Homo sapiens: one gene and its partners. The protein of the gene in region 1 interacts with the protein of each later gene in a biochemical or structural test. Each region holds a gene or a part of one and is shown in the gene's direction. Other genes may lie near its edges. The genes, in order: MARCHF8, VANGL2 and SREBF1.

What was found.
Region 2: the proteins of MARCHF8 (region 1) and VANGL2 form a complex in vitro, tested with the Homo sapiens proteins (one study listed by BioGRID).
Region 3: the proteins of MARCHF8 (region 1) and SREBF1 form a complex in vitro, tested with the Homo sapiens proteins (one study listed by BioGRID).

The regions. Positions count from the first base shown.
Region 1 is NC_000010.11:45,458,731-45,462,476, reverse strand, and holds part of MARCHF8 (E3 ubiquitin-protein ligase MARCHF8), read left to right. Parts: intron 1-1,065; coding exon 1,066-1,246; intron 1,247-2,599; exon of another isoform or gene 2,600-2,737; intron 2,738-3,209; coding exon 3,210-3,357; intron 3,358-3,746. UniProt on the Homo sapiens protein: E3 ubiquitin-protein ligase that plays several important roles in innate immunity and adaptive immunity.
Region 2 is NC_000001.11:160,398,662-160,402,407, forward strand, and holds the start of VANGL2 (vang-like protein 2), read left to right. Parts: upstream 1-1,902; 5' UTR 1,903-2,208; intron 2,209-2,513; exon of another isoform or gene 2,514-2,668; intron 2,669-3,746. UniProt on the Homo sapiens protein: Involved in the control of early morphogenesis and patterning of both axial midline structures and the development of neural plate. Plays a role in the regulation of planar cell polarity, particularly in the orientation of stereociliary bundles in the cochlea.
Region 3 is NC_000017.11:17,830,379-17,834,124, reverse strand, and holds part of SREBF1 (sterol regulatory element-binding protein 1), read left to right. Parts: intron 1-3,746.

The DNA.
Region 1 (3,746 bases):
TTGCATCTCCCAGCCTCTTTTTTAACCCTTGCTCCCTACCTACCCCCAAAAGGTGTGTGGGGACTGGCTGTTCTCCAGTAGCTCCTTCCTTCCTTCTTTTTAACTGAGGTGTAGCCACCTATGTCCCATCCTAACTCTGTTTCCCCCCTTTATCTTCCCTTGTGCAGCATCCTTGTCTGGCCTCCATAATTCACTTTTTGTCATGACTCTTGTGCCCTCCTCATTCTGACCTTTCTCCAGTCTCCGCTCCTTAGTGCCAGCTGTCATCATTTCTAACATTTGGATCAGAGATCCCCTCACTAAAACAGCCTGAGAGCCTGGCTCCTTCCAGGACGAGTGCCCCAACCTGTTCTCTAGCTGCTGGAAAAGACCCCTCTGTTTCTTAAAAGCCTGTTAAGTTCCTTCAGGCTAGTAGCTACACCTTGTTGCATACTTCCTTGGAAATAGAGAGTGCTTTCAAATTAATTTCTCACTTATTGCTATTAGTGGTCCCAAGAAAAAGAGATGAAATTGCAGCATCTTGTAATGGTGAGTTTTTTAGGTCTAGGAGAGAGGTACTGTCATCTTTGTTTACTTGCTGAGAGACGACAGAAATGTGTAGTTGTGGGGTATGAAGGTAAAGTCAGTGATTATAGCTAAAAAGCAAACGTCATTTAAGGTCACTGGTATTTTTGGATGTTGGAATGCAGGTTTTGTTTTACATAGAAATTTTCCCTCTAATTATTTTACCATCTTATGTTCTGGAAAATGATTCCATGTTGCTTTAAATTCATCTTTCAGTGAAGTTCTTATTTCTTACCAAAAAATGACAGCTTTGTCATTTCTTACATCGTTTTTTCCTTTCTGTTGCCAAATGCCCTCCAGACTTTCCATGTTGGTGCGGTAAGCTAGACATTTTTAGTTTGTAGTGATTGTTTTCGTTTGTGTTTGTATGTTTTTGTGCCCATAGTCACTTCTGTAATGTTCGTTTCTGAGTTTCCTTTGGGGGGATTAACCTGCCACTGAAGTGTCAGCTTCCCTGTCATGGGACTGTCCTTGGAATGACAGGTTTTCCTTCCACCATAGGATCTGCCACTGTGAAGGAGATGATGAGAGCCCCCTGATCACCCCCTGCCACTGCACAGGAAGCCTCCACTTCGTGCACCAGGCCTGCCTGCAGCAGTGGATCAAGAGCTCCGACACGCGCTGCTGCGAGCTCTGCAAGTATGAGTTCATCATGGAGACCAAGCTGAAGCCACTGAGAAAAGTACGTGGGAGGAAGGGATGCTTCACCCTTCCTGAAACCAGTGACCCCCAGAAAGCTGGTGTCTCAGATCATGAGGTCATGGCTTGCCTGCGTTCATTTCCTTAAAAAGCTGGGGCTGGTGCTTACATTTGCATTGTAGAGATTGTTGTTTCTGGTGCTGATTTTCAAGTCCCTCTTCTCAGGAAGAAGCTCTTTCTGACCATTCATAATCCTTCTTTTCCCTTCAAAGTAAGACTGCTTGCTTGTCGGTGTCAGTCCTCTGGCCTTTGACTACAGACTGTTTGTGACATATCTTAGCACCTAATTTTATACATATTAACTGTTGACGTCCTGCTTCTCTGATTAGGACTGTCTGTTGGAGATTAGTATCTCCCCAGCACCCAGCACAGTGTAGCATACAGTAAATTTATTTGTATACACCCATGATAACTATTTGCTGGATGGGAGTGTGAGTAGGTGGATAGGGAAAAGAAAGGAAGCACAAACGTTGCGTGATGTGCAACTGTCTTCAGAAAGGACCCACAGGCATTGCATGACACGCAGCTGTCTGGAGGCCCATGTCACTGCTCCCTCTGAGAGGAGCTTTGTCCGCCACACTGGCTTCCTGTTTAAATTTTGACTGTTTCATATATCTCTCTAGATGCCCAGCACAAAAGGTTTTGTCTGGAAGAATAAAAAACTGTTCCTATCTCAGAACATTAATATATAAATTGCAAGATAAGTCACATAATCAAATACTAGCCAATTAAATGCTAAATGGTGTGCTGGTAGAGCATAACAGTCATTCAGAAAAGGAAATGCTCATTATGAGCTAGAGTGCTGGGGAAGTGGAGCGATGGTAGCCTCATAGGGTGTTTGGGTTTTAGAGCAGTTCTTGAAGGATCACTAGGATTTGGAGGCAGAGTGCAAGGAGTTTAGAGAGGTCAGGCTGTCTGTGGAGTAAAGCATACCCTAGAAAGGTGAAGGTGAACATTGACAGGGTGTCAAGCTACGTGCGTTGTAGGAAGTAGCAGGGAGCATGGGGCACTGAGGCACTGACTCTGTATTATAGGTAGGAAGACCAGGGAACTTGCTAGTGTATAAAATCCCAGCAGAAAACAACCAGATTTAGAGAAGGCTTGTGCAAACTGCTTAAAAAAATGTTTTGCCCAGTAGAAACCTTGTAATTTATTGGGTGCCTACTCTATGCTAATCTCTCAACATGGGAAGTCCTTGAGGCTCTATTTTCAACTACCCTGCATAGACTCATCTGGAAAGAGGCTGTGACTAGGGTTGGCAAAGGATATGTGCAGAGTGTTTACACATTGTTCTTTCTCTCTACCTTTATGTGTTTTCTCCTGATTCGGAAACCAGTAAATGAAAAAGAAAGTCTGGCTATTTGGAGTAAATTAATGAGCTCCTAGAGGAGATGGGACTAGCAGAGTCTGCTTGTACCAGGAACTCTTAGCGTCGATTTCGAGCTGTTGCTGCCAAAGTAGCAAGGACCAAAGAGTGAGCGTCTTCTGCCATTCACCTTCACAATGTAGTGTGACCCATCTGCTAGTGTGTTGTGGCATCATCAACCCTCTTCTTCCGCTCGTCCATGCCAGTCAGCACATCAGGGAGACTTAAAACGTAGTACCTGGGTCCTGGGCCAACATACTGTTTTCATTAGGACTGAAATCATAGAATTCTTTATCAGGCCATCTTATGTCTGCTTGCAAGAATAAGCAGACAAGGGGATTTTTGATGGTAGTTCTGCATTCATCTTGATCCTGGCTTCTTTTCATTGCATAGAAAGTTGGCTGCACCTGGTACCTGGTTGAAGCCAAGTGGTTTTAGGAGAACAATACTTGGGGGAATGCATCTAGTTTGGGAAGGGAGAAGTGGGGTGGAAAGCCAATCTTACCTACCTACAATGCTCTCACCCCACCGGAGCCCTTCCCCAGAAGCCTGAGCCTCACACTCTGTGTTGTCTTTCTAGTGGGAGAAGTTGCAGATGACGTCCAGCGAGCGCAGGAAGATCATGTGCTCAGTGACATTCCACGTCATTGCCATCACATGTGTGGTCTGGTCCTTGTATGTGCTCATTGACCGTACTGCTGAGGAGATCAAGCAGGGGCAGGCAACAGGTGAGTTCTCAGGCTGGAGCAAGCTCAGCATGGGGGCCGGGATAGCTCACAGGAGTCCTGGGGTCAGAGGATTTTCCAGTTAGCCAAAAACGTCTGGGTTTCCGGAGGAGGGACATCAGTTAGGAGGCACTAGCCTCCTTTTTGGCATTTCTTTTGCTGTGGTGGTAGTTTTTGAAACCCAGTCAGGAGAGTTCATATTCTGGAGCATGAGAATCTCCGCAAACTACATCCTATAAAAGCAGGAAGTAGCTGGACACTGTCTTCCACTCTTCTTTGACTGAGCAACATTGGATGAGTTGTGAATCCATTGGTCAGTGGTGCAGGCTTGTGGTCCCCAGATACTTGAGGCTGAGGGATGGAGGATTGCTGAGGCTCAGGAGTTCAAGGCT
Region 2 (3,746 bases), on another chromosome or scaffold:
AAGCTTTCAGTGGGGCCAGACTATGGAATTATCTGTAATTCTGGCATCAGAAGCCCTTTTTCCAGTTCTTTGGGCCATTTTGGGGTCTGTGAAACAGGCTAGCAGCATGTGAAGATAATTCACACTAAATCTGCCTGAGAGTCAAGACAGTGCCACGGCAGCCCCGACTCTGTGTCAAATTACACACTAGCTGCCTAGCACTGGGGTGTGCTTTGGGGCAGGGCTGGGGACACCCATGTCCTCCCTACTTCCCTTAACCCTTCCCCAGCTCTCCTGCCACTCCCTCATACACCTGGTCGTGGTCACTGCCAGGAGCCCCAGTGCGGCCCAGTGCCTGCACATGATAGGCACAAGGTGAATGAGTGCCTGGACGCATGCAGGGACTTGGGTACCTGAAATGATGATTCTGCATATTTCATGTAGTCTTGATGCTGAGTCACCTGCTTACCCATACTACTGGAGGAGGGGATGAGGAAAGACAGAGTTTGGGCAAAGGAGAAAGGAAGTGTGTTTTACTGTTCTGCATCTTTGAACAATGCAGCATAGTTGGTTCTGTCCTCATCTTTGGACAGGTTAGAATGAACCATCAAAAGGGGTGAGATTAGGTCTCAGGAAATAGTTTTCATCAGGGAGGAGCAAAAATTCCCAAACAAGTGAGGAACAGAGGCTGGGAGTCTCTTTCTCTGGGATTCCTTAATCACAGGGTTGTTCAAGCAGGTGCCAGGATTGGAAACTGAAGGAGGCTGAGATATTGAAAAGGCCTTGGCCTGCTTAGGGAGAAGTATGTGAAGATGCTTTTGAAATGATACTACTCTAAGTGGCGGGTTGCACGGCAATAACATTAATGATAATTGAATACTGCTTTCACTTACTCCAAGGGGAACATGGACTTCCCACAGCCCAGGCTTTTACGGTGTGGGTTCACTCTTGTAGGGTCACATGTAAAAGAACCCTAACTGGTTTCTTGGCATACTGGGAGGCACAAATGCCCCAAACGTGTAGGATATTTTGTGAGATCCTACAATCCCTGTGTGGCACCTTCAACTCTAAAGTATCTGAAACTCCTGGGATGGACAATCTGCCTGCTTGGGGTTGGGGACCCAACTGGCCAAGGCATTTTTCCTCTTGGAGGTTTCCTGGGAGAAGGCCCCCTCTCCTCTGCCATTCAAACTCCCAGGCGCCCGCGTCTTTTCCTCCTCCCCTTCTTCCCTAAGGCAGGGTTCCCTTTGTAATTAATCCCAACACTCAAACCAGAGGGGAGGAAAAATGTGTTAATGAGGGAGCGTCCCAGACTGACTGGGGCGGTCGCTGCTCGCAGCTAGAACTCCAAGTAATTAAATTATTTTTGGAAGGAGGGGATATGGTGGTGATGGTGTCAGGGAAATCCCCGTATGCATGGGAAGAGGCGTGCGCCTCTCGCCACTAATTAAAATCAGGGATGACCCTCCCTTCTCGGACCCCTAGGGGGAAAAAAAAAATCAATCTTCCCACGTCCCAGATTCCATTGGATTTTGTGTAGTCGGGTCCGTGGCCCTAAAGAGAATATGGCCAGCCCCAGGGATCTGGGGGCTCCTTCTCCGACAGGAGGGGTCCAGGAAGACAGCCCCAGGAGGGACTGCGGGCTGGGCCAAGTCCAAGAATCGAGGCATTCCCCTGCCCACCGTTCGGGACCCGAGTGTCAGCCCCACCGCGGATTCCCAGGATCGGGGAGGGCCGCTGGGCATCTGAAGGCGCAGGGCTGGGGGAGCGGCGACTCCGGGAAGAGCGGGGCCGCAGACAATGGACGCGGCGGTAGGAGGGGCGGCGGCTGTGGGAACAGCCGGGAGGCGGCACCCGGGAGCTCGCGCTCCCCCGCCCCCTGCACCCCCCACCCTCATCCCCTCCCCCTCCGCCCCCTCCCCCCTGCGCCGCCGGCTCCCGATCTGATTCCTGATCCTTGATTCCTTGATCCTTGGTCCCGCCATGGGAGCCTGAGCGCCCCCTATTCCCCCCTGGCCCCCAGCCCCCGGGGCCTTGAGGGGGAAGAGGCAGCGGTCTGGGACGGAGCAGGGGGTGACCAGACTCAAGAACCCCCCCCTCAACATCCCCCATCGCGCGCGCTGCCTGTCCAGGAGCGCCGAGTTCGGAGCGACCCGGAGCGCTGCGGATACAAAGGCGACGGGCCGAGCGGGGCGCCCGCGGAGCCCACCCGGCAGTTCGCAGCGGCGGGTGAGTGCCGGGCCGCGGGGGCGCGGGCAAAGTTTGAAAAAAAAAGAAGAAAGAAAGAGAGAGAAAAAAAGAAATGGAAAAGGAGGAAAATCATGCAAGGGGCCAGGGGGTGCCCGACCCCAGAGCGAGCGGGGTGGCTTATGGGGGAAGGGGGGCTGGACTCCGGGCAACCCCCTTCCGGTCCGCTTCCCCACTGCACAGCGGAGTACCCCCCCCAACTTTGGGGAGGGGAAGGGGCTCGTGGGGAGGGGGCGGAGCCCAGGCCTGGAGAGCCGGGGACTTTCCTGGGCCCGGGCGGGGGCCTTAATGATCCCAGGGGAGCCGGTTGAAGCCGGAGACGGGGAGCTTGTGTTGGAGGTGGGGGGAGAGGCGTGGAAGGATCGGAGTCTGGAGGTATTGGAAGCCAAGGGTGTTTTGGGGTGCATACACCCCTCAGGAGCGTGGGGAGGGACGGAGGCAGGTATGCGTTAAGGGTGTAGAGTGGAGTCAGGGGGGCGGGTTGGGCAGAGTAGATAGGGTGTATGTACAGACCGAGGATGGGGCTGGAGGCGGTAGACTGTGTATAGGGGCCGAGGGGACAGGCGCTGGCATCCCTCTCCCCACTCATATTTACCCATCTGGGGGACTGTGGGCTCTGCGTTAGTGAGTTTTGAAGGGTTGGTGGAGGATCCGTGTGCATGATTCTTTGTTTTGGTGTGTGTGCACGCCTTGACGTGCTGCATGTTCCTGCAGGTGGGCCCCTGGTTTGGATGTGTAGGTGTTTTTCTGTGCTTGAGTGTGTGTGCACCCAGGGAGCGGCTGACCATGCATCTGCTGTGTGTTTGGATATGTGTTTATATGTATACTTAGGGGAGGGCGTGTATGTCTATGTGTGTGTACTGGGAGAGGGGTTCACGGGAAAGAGGTGTGTAGGTACTGAGGAAGGTGGGTGTGTAAGAGCAGAATGGAGTGTATGTGGATAGGTGTGTGTGCACCTGTGTACTGGGAAGGGGTGTGAATCTGTGTTCTCTTGTGTGTAACCTGTGTTGATGGGTATCAATGTGTGTGCCTGCCTTAGCTGGTATGTATGTTTCTGAGTGTGTGTCGGGGGTACCTCTAGACTCTGCAGGCAGATTTTCCTGGCAAAAATCCCGAAAAGAAGGCTGTCTGCAGGATTTTGAGACTTCGTGGATGGCCTCGCCTGGGTTTAGGGGTAGTACCTTAAGTATCTGAGACCTATGGGTGGGAGGGAATGAGTTGTCTTATGAAGTGCCTGTTTTTGGGGGATGGGTTTTTCTGGAAGAGGGCGTGTGTTGTGGGGAATAGGGAACAAGGGGTCTGGTTGTAGTCCTAGAGGAATTTGGAAGATTGGCGGGGTCAGGGAGAAGAATAAGAGGAACTTCCTCCCCCATCGTCATAGGCTGGGTTCCAGCGCTTGGAGAAGCTACACTCTTGGATTCCCAGCCTTAGGTAAAAGCTTCAGGCCACAGTTCTCTTGGAAAGCCGTCTCAGAGTTTGCTGCTTCATAGCCTTCTAACTCTGCCCTGACTCTAAGATCC
Region 3 (3,746 bases), on another chromosome or scaffold:
GAGATTCTGTTTCAAAAAAAACTTTAAACCTACCACCCAGAGATAAGCCCTGCTAATTATGTGAAAGAGCTTTTCTTCTCTCTCTCTCTCTCTCTCTGTGTGTTTATATGTGTTTGGGGATGGGTGCACACTCTTCATAAACTTTTTTTTTTTTGAGACAGGGTCTCGCTCTTTTGCCCATGCTGTAGTCCAGTGGCATGATCTCAGCTCACTGCAAACTCTGCCTCTCAGGTTCAAGAGATTCTCCAGCTCCCAAGTAGCTGGGATTACAGTCATGCACCGCCACGCCTGGTTAAATTTTGTATTTTTAGTAGAGATGGCCATGTTGGCCAGGCTGGTCTCGAACTCCTGAGCTCAGGTGATCTGCCCACCTCAGCCTCTCAAAAGTGCTGGGATTACAGGGCATGAACCACCATGCCCGGCCTTCATCAATTTTTTAAAAACGACTTTATTGAGGTATACTTTATGTATCACAAAATTTACCCATTTTTAGTATATCATTCAATGATTTTTAGTTAACTTTTTGAGTTGTGTGACAATTACTAGCTGTCGAACATTTTTATCACACAGTGAGATCCCTTATACTTCTTTAGTCAGTTCCTGTTCCTGCTCCCAGCCCCGGGCAGCTGTGGATCTGTATGTGTGTGTGTATATATATATATATATATATATATTTTTTTTTTTTTTTTTTTTTTTTTTTTTTTGAGACGGAGTCTTGCTCTGTCGCCCAGGCTGGAGTGCAGTGGTGCGATCTTGGCTCACTGCAAGCTCCGCCTCCCAGGTTCAAACAGTTCTGCCTCAGCCTCCCGAGTAGCTGGGATTACAGGCACCTGCCACCACGCCCGGCTAATTTTTTTGTATTTTTAGTAGAGATGGGGTTTCACCATGTTAGCCAGGATGGTCTCGATCTCCTGACCTTGTGATCTGCCCACCTCGGCCTCCCAACGTTCTGGAATTACAGGCGTGAGCCACCGCGCCCGGCTGGATCTGTATTTTTATAAATTAAAATAGGGTCCATTGGTTCACAGCTGATTGGAATCTGCTTGGTTCCATGTCAACAGCCAGACGACAGTAAGGTTTCCTCTTATTACCCACCTGATTCCCTGTCGATGGACACCTAGGTTGTTTTATCTTTATAAACTGCTGCAGTGGACACTGAGGCCGGTTTTTTTCTTTGTTTTTTTTTTTTTGTTTGTTTGTTTTTGAGACAGAGTCTTGCTCTGTCACCCAGGCTGGAGTGCAGTGGCGCGATCTCGGCTCACTGCAAACTCCGCCTCCCGGGTTCACACCATTCTCCTGCCTCAGCCTCCCGAGTAGCTTGGGACTATAGGTGCGTGCCACCATGCCTGGCTAATTTTTTGTATTTTTAGTAGAGACGGGGTTTCACCGTGTTAGCCAGGATGGTCTCGATCTCCTGACCTCATGATCTGCCCGCCTCGGCCTCCCAAAGTGCTGGGATTACAGGCGTGAGCCACTGTGCCTGGCCACTGAGGCCAGTCTTTGCCCGGATCCTCACTGTGTTCCTAGGATGAGGTTCTGGGAGGGGAATTGCTGGTCAGAGGTCGAGCCTGCTTTTGAAGCTTCTTCTACCAGGAGTGGAGCTGAGCAGGTTTGATAAGGTCTGAAGATTTGGGGGTGGAAATGCCAGGTCCCTTGAGAGACATGAGGGATAAGAGGGGGCCAGGCTGGCCTTGAGTGCCAGAGTGCAGAGCTGGGCTAGATGTGAGGACAGTCGGGGGTCAGAGCAGGGGCACACCGAGCTTCAGTTCCCTCTGGCTGCTTGGATGGAGGATCGTAATGTGAACAGAAAACACTAATTGAGTACTTACTGTGTTTCAGACAGTGTGTTGATAATCCCACTTAATCCCCTGACAACCCCAAGTAGGTAGACATATGATGAAGATGACGGCCTTGAGGACCAGAGAGGTTAAGTGATTTGCCTGAGATCACACAGCCAGATGATGGCAAAGCCAGAATTCAAACCCAGGCTGTGGGCTCCAGAGCCTAGCTCTTAAGCTCTTAAGCACTGGGCTCCTAAGAATGGGGATGAGGGGTTGAGGGAGGCTCCTCCACAGGGGCTACTCTGGGGGCCTGGAAGTGGGTCACAGAGGGGTCAGAGGCTATGTGGCTACCTCCCCATCCCAGTCCAGAGCAGTGTTTGAGTCATTAGACTGGGAACCAGCCCTGGTGAGCCAGCCAAGGGCCTTGGGCCCCATCCGGTCCTGCTGCCTGCCACAGCCAAACTCTTGTCATGTGAATGGATTTGGGGATGGAGCTGCCTCCATGAGTCCTTGCATCTGTGGGTGAAGGCACTGCCCTGGCTATAGTGTCCCTGGGTTTGAGTCCTGCATCTGCACCAAGACCTCAGGTGAGCCTGTCTCCTTCTGGGCCTCAGAGTACCTTGCAGCTGTCGGGGGAGGATGGATCAGGAGATGGCCCTGTACCTGTGTTGGGGATTATTGTTAAGCCCGTGGCAGTCTTCACCTCCCTGCTGAGGATTAATTTATCCAATTTTGCACAAGCTTATGAGTGCAGAAGAGGCAGACGGAAACAGAGTTCTGGCCAAGAGCCTGGAACAGGGCCTCGGGGTCTCTTTCCTATGCCTGGACCCCGTCATGTCTGCTCTTTGTCTGTCGGACCCCAGATGTCTGCCAAGCCCCGTCAGAGGCTGCTTCCCAGAAAGCCCTTCTGGGTGTCACCTTGCCCCGAGCAGTGCGTTCTCAGAGTTCTCCCGCCCTGATGTCCCTCCCAGCATGCCCAGCCCAGCCACAACAGGGCCTTGCTTCTAGTCATGTGTCTGGCTGTTTGCTGGGTCCAGGCCAGCCCTGGTAGGGCACAATGGGGGCCCGCTCTGCCACCCCATACCTCTCCCCAGGATATCTCATGCCCCAGTTCTCTCCCTAGTTCCACCAAGCACTGGCACTCCTTAGAAAACACAGCTCTAGACTAGTTACTGCCCTAGCTTACAGCACAGAACTCCCCTGGTCTCCAACCATTCATGGCTCCCTAGTGCTCCAAGATAAAGTTCCCTTGTCTCAGCCGGGTTGGGAGTTACCTTCTGCCCAACATTCACCTAGCTGGACACAAACATCCTGAGTGACCCGGTCAGCTCCAGGCAGGAGTCACTGCCAGCAGAGGCCTGGGATCTGGACTTTGCCTGCTGACAGGTGGAGCCCAGGCCGGCCAGAGGAAGTGCCTCTGACCTTGTCTCCTAGCAGCCACGGGCCATGTGGACATGCCTTTTGACCCTGGGCACTGACAGTGTGTGACAGCCTGCACCATGTGCTCCACAGGGGCGGCTGTGTGTGTCGGGGGTGAGGTGGGGAAAGCCTTAACTGGCTCAGGGGTGAGAGGTCAGGGAGCCATTGAGACTGGCTCCAGGTGTGGGTCCCCTGCTGGGTTGGGGCTTGTGGGAGGTGGGACGGGGCTGGGGGTCCATCCCCCTAGGGGGAATTTGTGGCCTACCCCGAACCCTGTTTGAGCTCCTTTCCTAACTGACTCCCCGTCCCTGCACCTGTCTCCCAGCAGGCCTTGCCTCTGCATGCTGCCCCTGCCAGGCTCTGGGGTCCCTGTGCTCCCTGCAGCTAGAAGGCTGGGATCAGGGGTCTTAACAAGCAGCCCTACTGTATGACCTTGGACAAGTCCAAGAACCTTCAGGTTCTTAACAATGTAAAGGGAGCAGTACTAAAAGCAGCTTCTTGGAATTGTGGGGATCCGATGAGTGAAGGCTTAAGCAGTGCATGGCA